Linked DNA regions of Homo sapiens: region 1 is linked to region 2. Evidence: fine-mapped QTL for protein levels in blood plasma. A gene starts in region 2. The other region holds a variant in brackets. All regions are shown on one strand. Distances are between the middles of the regions.

Evidence for each region. PIP is the chance, under the fine-mapping model, that this variant and not a neighbour inherited with it causes the effect. Protein levels are from antibody-based Olink assays in UK Biobank. Linkage for the fine-mapping came from a reference panel and not from the study's own genotypes, which makes the PIPs less certain.
Region 1: its variant is fine-mapped to the plasma level of the CRIM1 protein (UK Biobank, PIP above 0.99). The variant lies in the coding sequence of CRIM1. If it changes the protein, the assay may bind it differently, which can mimic a change of level.

What each region holds. Positions count from the first base shown.
Region 1 is chr2:36,474,255-36,479,633 of GRCh38, forward strand. CRIM1 (cysteine rich transmembrane BMP regulator 1) reads left to right here. Exons shown (of 17, transcript NM_016441.3): 6 at 2,635-2,817; 7 at 5,243-5,379. Among named protein-coding and RNA genes, the nearest start is that of CRIM1, 120 kb to the left of the region's middle. RefSeq lists a silencer at 2,172-2,466. The variant G/A (reference allele first, on the strand shown) is at 2,692.
Region 2 is chr2:36,351,050-36,356,425 of GRCh38, forward strand. CRIM1 (cysteine rich transmembrane BMP regulator 1) reads left to right here and starts at 4,729. Exons shown (of 17, transcript NM_016441.3): 1 at 4,729-5,376. The coding sequence starts at 5,244. CRIM1-DT (CRIM1 divergent transcript) reads right to left here and starts at 4,521. Exons shown (of 2, transcript NR_037631.1): 1 at 4,039-4,521; 2 at 3,700-3,932.

The DNA of each region.
Region 1 (5,379 bases), 120 kb after region 2:
CTTTCTCCCAATCTGTAGGGTTGTCTTTTTACCTTTTTGATGGTGTCCTTTTAAGTCCCAAAATTGATGAAGTCCAGTTTATCTGTTTTGTTCCTTTGTTGCTTATGCTTTGAATGTCACATCTAAGAAACCACTCCCTAATCAAAGGCCACAAAGATTAACTCTTATGCTTCCTTCTAAGAGCACTGTAGGTGTAGCTGTTGTATTTAGATCATAACTCTATGATTCATTTTGAGTTAATTTTTGTATATGGTGTGAGGCATAGGGTTTTCTTCTTTATTCTTTTGCATGTAGATAATGCAAAAGACTTTCAACCTCAGGCCTGGCATGGTGGCTCACACCTGTCATCCTAGCACTTTGGGAGGCCAAGGTGGTTGGATCACTTGAGGTCAGAGGAGTTCAAGACCAGCCTGGCCAACATGGTCTTTACTAAAAATACAAAAATTAGCTGGGCATGGTGTCATGCACCTGTAGTCCCAGATACTTGGGAGGCTGAGGCAGGAGAATCACTTGAACCCAGGAGGTAAAGGTTGCAGTGAGCTCAGATGACGCCACTCCACTCCAGCCTGGGTGACAGAGTGAGACTCTATATCAAAAAAAAAAAAAAAAAAAGACTTTGAACCCCACTGAGTCTTGGCCATCTTGTCAAAATACCTGTAAATGTGATAGTTTATTCCTGAACTCTCAATTCCATTGAACTATATATCTATCCCTGTGGCAGTACCACATAGTCTTGATTACTATAGCATTGTATTATGTTTTGAAATTAGGAAGTAGGAGTTCTCTAACTTTGTTCTCCCTTTTAAGATTGTTTTGGCAATTCTGGGTCCCTTGCATTTTCATATGAATTTTATGATCAGCTTATCAATTTCTACAAAAGAGCCAGCTAGGAGTTTGATAGAGATTGCATTGAACATGTAGATCAATTTGGGGAATATTTCCATTTAAACAATGTTGTCTTTCAATCCATGAACACGGGATGTCCCGTTTACTTAGGCCTTTTTAGTTTTTTGAAAATGTTTTGTTATTTTCAAAATACAAGTTTGTACTTATGTTATTACATTTATTCCTAAGTATTGTATACTTTTTGATGCTATTGTGATTGGAATTGTTTTCTTCATTTTCTGATTGTTCATTGCTAGGGTATACAAACACAATTTGGGGAGTTGCAATTGTACTCTGCAACCTTGTTGAACTTGTTTATACATTCTGATAGTTTTTTAGTGGATCCCTTAAAACTGTTTACATACAAGATCATGTCATCTGCAATTAGAGATAGTTTTACTTCTTCCTTTCCAATCTGGATGCTTTTAATTTATTTATTTTTCCTAATTGCTCTGGCTAGAATTTTCATTACTATGTCGAATTGAAGTGGTGAGAACACACCTCATTGTCTTGTTCCTGATCTTAGGGGGAAAGCACTTGGACTTTTGCCATTAAGTATGAGGTTAGCTGTAGGACTTTTGAGGATGCCATTTATCAAGTTGAGGAAGTTCCGTTCTATTCCTAGTTGGTTGAGCATTTTTATCATGAAAGAATATTAGATTCTGTCAGATGCCAAAAACTGTGTCTATCGAATGATCATGTTGCTTTTTTTCCTTATTGTGTGACATATCGTATTAACATTAATATTTTGGATGTTAAACCAACCTTGCATTCTTGGAATAAGTCTCACTTGGTCATGGTGTATAATTTTGTTTATATGTTGCTGGATGTGGTCTGCTAGTAATTTTTTTTAAGATTTTTGTGTCTACATTTATAATATACTGATCTGTAGTTGTGTTTTCTTGTCTTGGTGGGAGTTATTTTAAATCAACTAAAATTAAAGAATGAATGTAGGGAGAGTGTTTCAAGGCAGAGAAAAATTTAAAAATCATTGATATCGTGATGAGACTTCTAAATATGGGACTATGAGTCCTCAGCAGAACATAACCCTGAAGCACAATGGAAGGAGCACAAGGTTTCAGTTGAAGAGCTACTGTTTTGGCTTCTGTCGTTTGCTGTGTGACTTTGAGTAAACTACCTAGGATTTCCTCACTTTTAAACTCAGGATAATAATACCTATGTCAGACCTTCATTATAGGGATTAAGTGAGGTGATACATATAGAGAGTATTTTGTTAAAGGCCAAACACTATTAAAATTATACGTGTTTATACCATGTACAGAGAAAAAGAATTTAAGAGAGAGCACTGGGGGAACAGAACATCACCACTTCAAAAAAGACCATAATAAAATTTTTGAAGCAGAACAAAACCTAATGTGGAGGCAGGATCATTCATTTGAGGTAGACAATGATTTAACCAAACAAATAGAATCACTTTAAAGCACATACCAGATATGTGAGTGTCATGGTCATAAAGTTTAGCTTTGTCTGGGATGGAAGGAAGTCAGTGTAGATTTTCCTAGGGGGAATTTCTGTTCCTTGGTGTAAACTGGATAACAGTGTGTTTTATTTTATTTTGTTTTGCTTCACTTTATTGTTTTCTGTTACATGAACTTACATTGAGTTGAGTAAATTTCCATCAACTTATAACCTCCTATTAGAAATTTTCTAGAGGCTGTTTGAAAAACATCAAAGGACACAACTAAAAAATGACTACAAATATGCCTTGTTTGTTTTAACTCTTTTCAGATACAAAGCCAGCCTGCGTATTTAACAATGTGGAATATTATGATGGAGACATGTTTC[G/A]AATGGACAACTGTCGGTTCTGTCGATGCCAAGGGGGCGTTGCCATCTGCTTCACCGCCCAGTGTGGTGAGATAAACTGCGAGAGGTACTACGTGCCCGAAGGAGAGTGCTGCCCAGTGTGTGAAGGTAAGAAAAGGTGCTAATTACAGATTAACAGGAGCATACATGGTATAGAGTTCTAAAATCAAAATCGTCCTAATTCAGTCTCATCCAAAAGTAAAGGAATATTGAAGTTCCTTTTTTAGCCTTTTTTAAGACACCATGGTCTGTCTTTTAGCATGTTAAAGCCAGGTAGAGTGTGTGGAAACACTTCCCTAAGGGAAGCTATGCCTGGGTGTAGACAATGGGTCACCTCTTTCCACAGGCAACGTGAGATGTCCCAGAGTTGTTTTCCGTTCCTCCCCTGCAGTTCTAGCAATTCCTCAGCAAGTCCTAGGGCAAAGCTTTATCTTCACCCTGGCATTAGAGCTCACCACCTCCTCACCTCAGATTGCTCAGTTAGGATAATGTGGGCCTCACCCTGACAGTCTCAGCCTGCCGGCCCAGAGAGGAACTAACTCTGCCACTGTCGTAATACCCAGGACCCTCCAGGGAGATCAGGGACCTGCTACTGCTTCTCTGAAAATATGTGGTGGTTCACATGGGGTCGTGGTATCAGGTCACCACCTGGTGACACCAACTCAAGGCCCAGCCAGGTGTCAGGTGTGACTCTCAGGAATCTGCTTTGTCTGGATTCCCCTTTTCTCTCCAAGAAGTAATATGTTCATGTTCCTTCAACAGGCTGCATCTTCCCATCACTGATGTTCATAAACAATAAGCATTTCAAAACAGTTGCTCTGAATATCACTCCCTGCAACCCACACATTTTACAGATTAGGATGTTGAAGTTCAGAAGAGAAAAGTCACTTGCCTGTAAAGTCACTTTACACTGCAGCCAGTAACAATAACCCCGTGCCTGACTGTGTCTATAGTGTTCTTCTGACAACACAACACTGTTTCCCCAGAAAGGAAGGTCTTGTGAGCCTTCCTGTCCTAACCAGGCCCCAGATCTTCAATCTGAAGTCGCATGTGTTAATCTTATGCCTGATCTCTGCACACAAAGTGGGAGGGCACAGTGTCATGCCACTTTCCATACTTCCTCATTTTCATAAAATTTTCTCCTTTTGATATTTGAGCAATATTTACAACATAATATTGAAGATCTGAAAATGTTTAAAGTATAAAAATTGCATTCCTAACATAGTTCATAACAGTGAGTTCTTTTCCCTACTAGAGGTTATTTTACCCAACATAGGAGAAAAGTAGTTTATTTTTTAGGTGATGTTGACAATTAAAAAGAATTACTTCAAATTTTTAACCTTTCTAATTGTTTTGTTCCCTACCTGCCCCCAGTCTGCAATAGTTCTGAAACTGTGCAGCAGTTGATGCTGTAAAAATGTAGATACGAACCTCTGTGTAGTCATCATACTGAGTTGTCTGGGCATGGATCCAGTTATGTCTCACTTCCTGGAATTCAGATCCAGGCTCAACGTAGAAAAATATGTATTCTAATACTTTTTACACAGGAATTTAAAAAATCTTCTCTTGCTCAGGTCCATTGGCCGCCTCCCTCTCTGGCAGACTGCCTTCCTAACGCTGTGATGGCATTATTTTAAATGCTGACCTTCTAACTGACTTTATTATAATGTCCCACTATGTCCTTAGAATAATGATGACCAAACTCTATGAACTGTCTGGATTCCTCTCTCAGCACAGCAGTAGTTGTTTGTTGAAGCCAGTTTTTTATGTATTTCTGAGAAAGAAAATTGAGTAATTTATCTGGTTGCTCTCAATAGAGGGATAAGAGAGGGTTTCATATGCAGTATTTATATACTTGTCAGTAACCTCAGAAACTTTTTTTTTTTTACAGTAGCTTTGGCTACTTCTGTCTCCCACCTGGGGCTGCAGCTTAGCTTCCCAACTTATGGGAGAAAAAATGGCCTAAGTTCACAGCGCTCCTCCAAGGCACAGTGACCCATGGTATGTCTAGACTAGCCTTGTCATGAACAAGTCCACAGCAAGACCACTGTTGCCCACATGGTCGTGCAGGTACATGAGATAGAGTTTTAGAAGTAACAATATCACTCTGACTTAGGGCATTGTTGCTTCCGCTTTACAGTTAGGGAAGTTGAGGTTTGATAAACATTTATGTCTACAACTGCGAAGACATTGTCAGAGCCTAAAATGGAGTCATGTTTTCTAATTACCAACCCACAGCTCTTGCCACAAAGCTTTCCAACTTTACAGAGTGATAACACCTGCACATTGGTTTTTAGACTACAGATCCTCTTCTCTGGGACTGCTGTGTCAGGATGAGTAGACATAAATTCAGTGTGACAGCTTCTTTTGCATGCACCCCCAGAGACTCCTCATGCAACCCTGCGCTTCTGTTGATCACAGTGGGAATAGAACTGCTGATGACTAGAACCCAGGGAAAAAATGTCTCTGGGTACTGACAGAGATAAGATTTAGAAGATGCTCAGTCTAACTCTGAACTCATGTTCTCATTTAGATCCAGTGTATCCTTTTAATAATCCCGCTGGCTGCTATGCCAATGGCCTGATCCTTGCCCACGGAGACCGGTGGCGGGAAGACGACTGCACATTCTGCCAGTGCGTCAACGGTGAACGCCACTGCGTTGCGACCGTC
Region 2 (5,376 bases):
GCTATTACTATTATCATTACCAATTACTGCTCTTTAAAATAAGTCAGAGACCAAAATGAGTCTGAGAAAATATCACAGAGGCTAAAACCCCAAGATGAGACAGACTGTCAAAACAAGGCCAACAGAAGATCCTAAGAAAGAAAAAAAAAAAAGCAAATATCTGATCCAGCAGATGTTGCACAGCAATGGATGCTAAGATAACAGAGAGCAGGGATTCCAGCTCAAGCATAAAACTTGAGGAGACACTCAATTAGAAGGACTCTAAAAATAACAATAGAAAAGGAGAGCAATCATTTTATCCACACGATACCCTGTATGGTTGGTATTCTTGTCTCTGTTTTACAGAGAAGACAGATTCAGAAAGGATAAATACCTTGTTTAAACTTGTACACAGAGAGAGAGAGAGAGAGAGAGAGAGAGAGTGTGTGTGTGTGTGTGTGTGTGTCAGGATCCTAGGCCAAACATCAAAGAGAACCTGTGTTCTGTGCAGATGTCTTGTAAACCTTGTGGTAGTTCTGCAGCAGCTATCATTCACAGGCAGAGTAAATAAGAACCCACTTAGCAAAAATAAGGTATTACGTGGTGATAATAGAGTTCAATTTCAGATTAAGAGTCCAACATCCAGATGGTTGAGCCTCCAAACTAGGGTCTGTCTATATCACTGCAGTGCCAAGCCTAGATTAAGTGAGAACCCATATATAGGTGATCCCAGCTGAGGAGACCAGAGAGATGGCCTAAGAGGGTAAAACGGGCCAGACCTGCTACCCTGGTTTATTCGTACCACTTTCTAATATGTATGCAACGTTTTCATAACACAATGAGGTTTCTTCTCTTGTGCAACTCAATTCCAAGAGTATGTGAGTCAAACTCAAAGGCAACTTCTACATTCTTCTTTTCATTTCAGGAAGAGAAAATACAAAGTGCAACTCAATTCCAAGAGTATGTGAGCCAAACTCAAAGGCAACTTCTACATTTTTCTTTTCATTTCAGGAAGAGAAAATACAGAGTGTGACTATAGGTGGACTAGACACTGTATCGGAAAGGCGGGGTCTAATACTAACATTCTGTCTATTGCCCTCTCATTTCCACTTTCTGCTTAGGCCAACAAATGGGCACTTTGATTTTCGACATTTTCAACAATTTATTAATCCCCAGGATGGCCAATAGAGGGCAGACGATCTCTTCTTCTAGACCTCCATCAGAAATACTTCGTAATTCCTGGTTCGTTGCAGACCTGTTCCCCAACCCCTCCCCCACCCCCCCACCACCCCCACCCCAAACTTCGATGACTCCCTCCTGCCCATACCATCCCTTTCAAGTACTGATTTTGAGGTATTTACTAAAACCAAGAGAGAAGGGCTGCAGACAATAATATTCAAATATCATTTTGACTGTAATTCTTCACTCTCCCTTTTTCAACTCATTCATGCATGCATTTTTATAAATCCTGCCCTCTCCAATAAGCTGACAAGCTAATTGGGTTCAGAGTTATTTAAATAACTATAATGTAACATGATAAATGCTACAAGCAGAGGTACTTACAAATGCTGTAGAACAGATAAAGAAGCTCAAGAAGGCTTCTCAGAAAGGGAGGCCTTTCATGTGTGGCTCTAATTCTTAACATTCGTTCATGACTTTCAGGGTCCATTCAATTTCAGGGTAATTCTTCCTAGTCCACTTTCACCCGTGACACCTGATTGTCATCATGTTGGGCTCACCCAAACTCTTTCTGTAACCATAGTCTGGTCTTTGAAGATAAGAAAATACTTTTGTATTCGAGCCTCAGTATCATTGCCTCAGCTTCTCACTACCTCATTATCATCCCTCCTGGATCCCAGAGAAGAAAGAGCTGTTTCATAACTGAGCTCCTGATTCACACACTGGTTTCAGAAAAGCTGCCAGGACCTTGCAGGTTTCTCATTCGCCACTAGTCACTGGCTTCAAGGAATCCTATTTTCTCTATTGCTTCTATGACTATTAATTTTATGCCAAAGGGCATGTGTAATGTAACTTGATTTTTTTTTTCTTTTTGAGCTGATACAATCATCTTCATCTTAAAGAATCTCCCTAGTCCTTTCTAAACCTGACTTGAATTCCTGTGAGAAGTCAACCTTTCTCATGTTGTATCTGTCCATCTACCTTCCAGGTGGTTCTACTTCTGAAGTCCCAGGAACAATGAATAGTCATCTCCAAATTATCCTTTGCCTGTGCTCATCTGTAGCTTTCCTTAATCCTTAATATATCCCCTTAAAAATAAATAGAAGCTAAACTTTGACAATGCTTATTACCTCCTTCTTTCCTAACCACAGTAGCTTTCTCACTTCTGCCTTTTTCTCATCACCTGACCTTGGCTTTTCCTGCAGGTCCTACAATGTTATCTGCTACATTTTAATGTCTTTATACTTGCATTTGAACAGAAATACAGATAACCTCCTCTGCAAGAGTGGGAGGGACCTTTTAACACAGAGCAATGATGACAGTTTGTTGGCAAATCCCACACTGAAGTGCTGGTGCCTTGTTCGGTGACAAGAAAGAACAATGTTTAACAATGTGTGTTTTATTTTTCTTCAGTTTTTTTGTTTGTTTGTTTTTGAGACAGAGTCTTGCTCTGTCGCCCAGGCTGGAGTGCAATGACGCAATCTCGGCTCACTGCAACCTTCACCTCCTGGGTTCAAGTGATTCTCCTGCCTCAGCCTCCTGAGTAGCTGGGATTACAGGCATGCGCTACCACACCCGGCTAATTTTTGTATTTTTGATAGAGACAGGGTTTCACCATGTTTCACCATGTTGGCCAGGCTGGTCTCGAATTCCTTACCTCAAGTGATCTGCCCACCTTGGCCTCCCAAAGTGCTGGGATTATAGGCATGAGCCACCACGCCCAGTCTCTTCGGTTTTTCTAATAGAAAACCTAGCATATTTTAAACGATTTTGCCACTTAACACTTATTATGGACCCACAGGGTATGAGGGCCTTTGGAGATCATCTAATCGGACTTCCCACCCAACTACAGGAATCATTTCATTGCAACAACTCTTTAAACCCGTCTAGAAAATGCAATGCTCTCTCCCCTTTTCCACGGTTGAACATCTTCCTCATGGCCCTATAATAATCAATGATAATTAATGAGCCTCTTCCTCTCCTTGGACAAAGAAATATGATAGGAGAAATGTTTAGTTTGCTGATGCCCATCATGGGGGAATAGTCCACTGGTAACTCTGGCTTTTGGGTTCAGGATTAGACAGAGTGGTTAAACTAAAATATTTATCGTAAGTATGAATTTGTTCCACAAACATAACATTTCAAAGGTAGCTTTGTTTCCTCTTTCCTTGCACTGCCAGCTATTAACTTTCGGTTCATTAGTCACGATTTTCAGAATCCACTTGGCTGCCACCTTCCTGCAGCCAGACCATCTTGGATCAGAGGGTGGGCCAGCCATTCCCACGTCACACCTGCCACGGGATCGATTTTTTCCCCCATTGACCACAGTCACTTTTTGTCAATTAATTAATGTTATTCACCTGGTACCCATCTTGTGAATGGTAGGTCACTACGGAGCGGATTACTACTTCATATCCCATCAATGACAGAGCCATCATTACGAAAACCTTTTCTGACAACCACTGAAGAGAAACCATCTCCACACCGTGCATTTTGCATCACTTCCGTTGCTTCTTTACCTGATTTATCACAAAGACTATGTACCACACATCTTCTTTATTAATGCATTGACAATCAGTGAAGACAATGAAAACCCACCACTTTTGTCCGTGAACTGAGAAAGAAAATGGCAATGTCATATGGCATTAATGATGCATGAGATCTATGGGTGTAGTGTCACGTCTAGGCGTGTAGTAATCCAGTCTTCGGCCTTACTCCAGGGAGAAAGATTCAGCTTTGTTACTTTCCAGTCACTCTCTCCCGTAACACAGCACCTTGGCACAGAAAGCAGAGCGACAAAACCCAGAATGAGGACAGTTAAAATTCAACTCAAGCTACAGCCATCCCAACGGTCCTCCCCAGCTCCCGCGGAATATTTACCAAGACCGTTTAAAGCACTTAATTAATTCACTTCAGCTTCGCTGGAGAGGTCTCAGGGTTCCCGAGACTCCATTACATAATATCTTTCACAAAGTCTATTCCCAGCTCGAATGGAAGATGGATTCTCATCCAGTGTGCGGAGGTTCCATGCCTTTGCTTCCCTTTCCCGGAGTTCGATCCGGCGATACCCTCCCGAGGCTGCAGCCATCGCCCCGGCCCCGAGCTTCTGGGGTACCCGCCACTCTTCGAACTCCAATCTGGCCCCGAAGGTGCAGCCGCCTCGCCCTCCTGGCTCCCAGGCCGGCCGCTGCGGCCACGGTGCCAGCGAGCGCCCGGGACACCGCGACTCTCGCTGCTCGCTGGGTGCGCCCCAAGCCCATCCGCAGCGCACCCGCGGCGCCGGGGCCAGAGCCGCAGCTCGGTGGCACGGCCGGCTCGGTGCGCCGGGCTCGGGGAGGAGGAGATCGGGAAGAGGTGGAGGCGTGTGAGGGAGGGAGGAAGGGCCCGGCCGCCCGAGAGGGGGAGGGGGAGGCGGAGGGGGCCGGCCGGGCCGGGGAGGGGGGGCAGCCAATGAGCGGCGCGCGGCGCGTGGGGGTGGGGGGAAGGTCTGGGGGAGGAGGTAGGATGGGGGAGGGCGCAGCCCGAGCGGCTGAGGCTCCAGCCATAAACAAGCGCCCGGAGGAGCGGCGCAGGAGTGAGGCGAGCGGGGCGCGCGGAGCGGACGCCGCGGATCTTGTGCTGCGCCACCGCGCCCACTCGGCAGCTCGGGAGGCGGGGACCGGCCCGGAGGCTGCGCCGCTGCGGGGCCGGCCGACTCGGAGGAGGAGAGGGAGGAGGCGCCGCCGGCCCGGGCTGGAGCCGAGCGCAGCAGCCACCGCCGCCGCCGCGCCAGAAGTTTGGGTTGAACCGGAGCTGCCGGGAGGAAACTTTTTTCTTTTTTCCCCCTCCCTCCCGGGAGGAGGAGGAGGAGGAGGAGGGGAAGCTGCCGCCGGCGCCAAGGCTCGTGGGCTCGGGGTCGGCGCGGCCCGCAGAAGGGGCGGGGGCCTCGCCCCGCGAGGGGAGGCGCGCCCCGGGGGCCCCGAGAGGGGCGGTGAGGACCGCGGGCTGCTGGTGCGGCGGCGGCGGCGCGTGTGCCCCGCGCAGGGGAGGGCGCCCGCCCCGCTCCCGGCCCGGCTGCGAGGAGGAGGCGGCGGCGGCGCAGGAGGATGTACTTGGTGGCGGGGGACAGGGGGTTGGCCGGCTGCGGGCACCTCCTGGTCTCGCTGCTGGGGCTGCTGCTGCTGCTGGCGCGCTCCGGCACCCGGGCGCTGGTCTGCCTGCCCTGTGACGAGTCCAAGT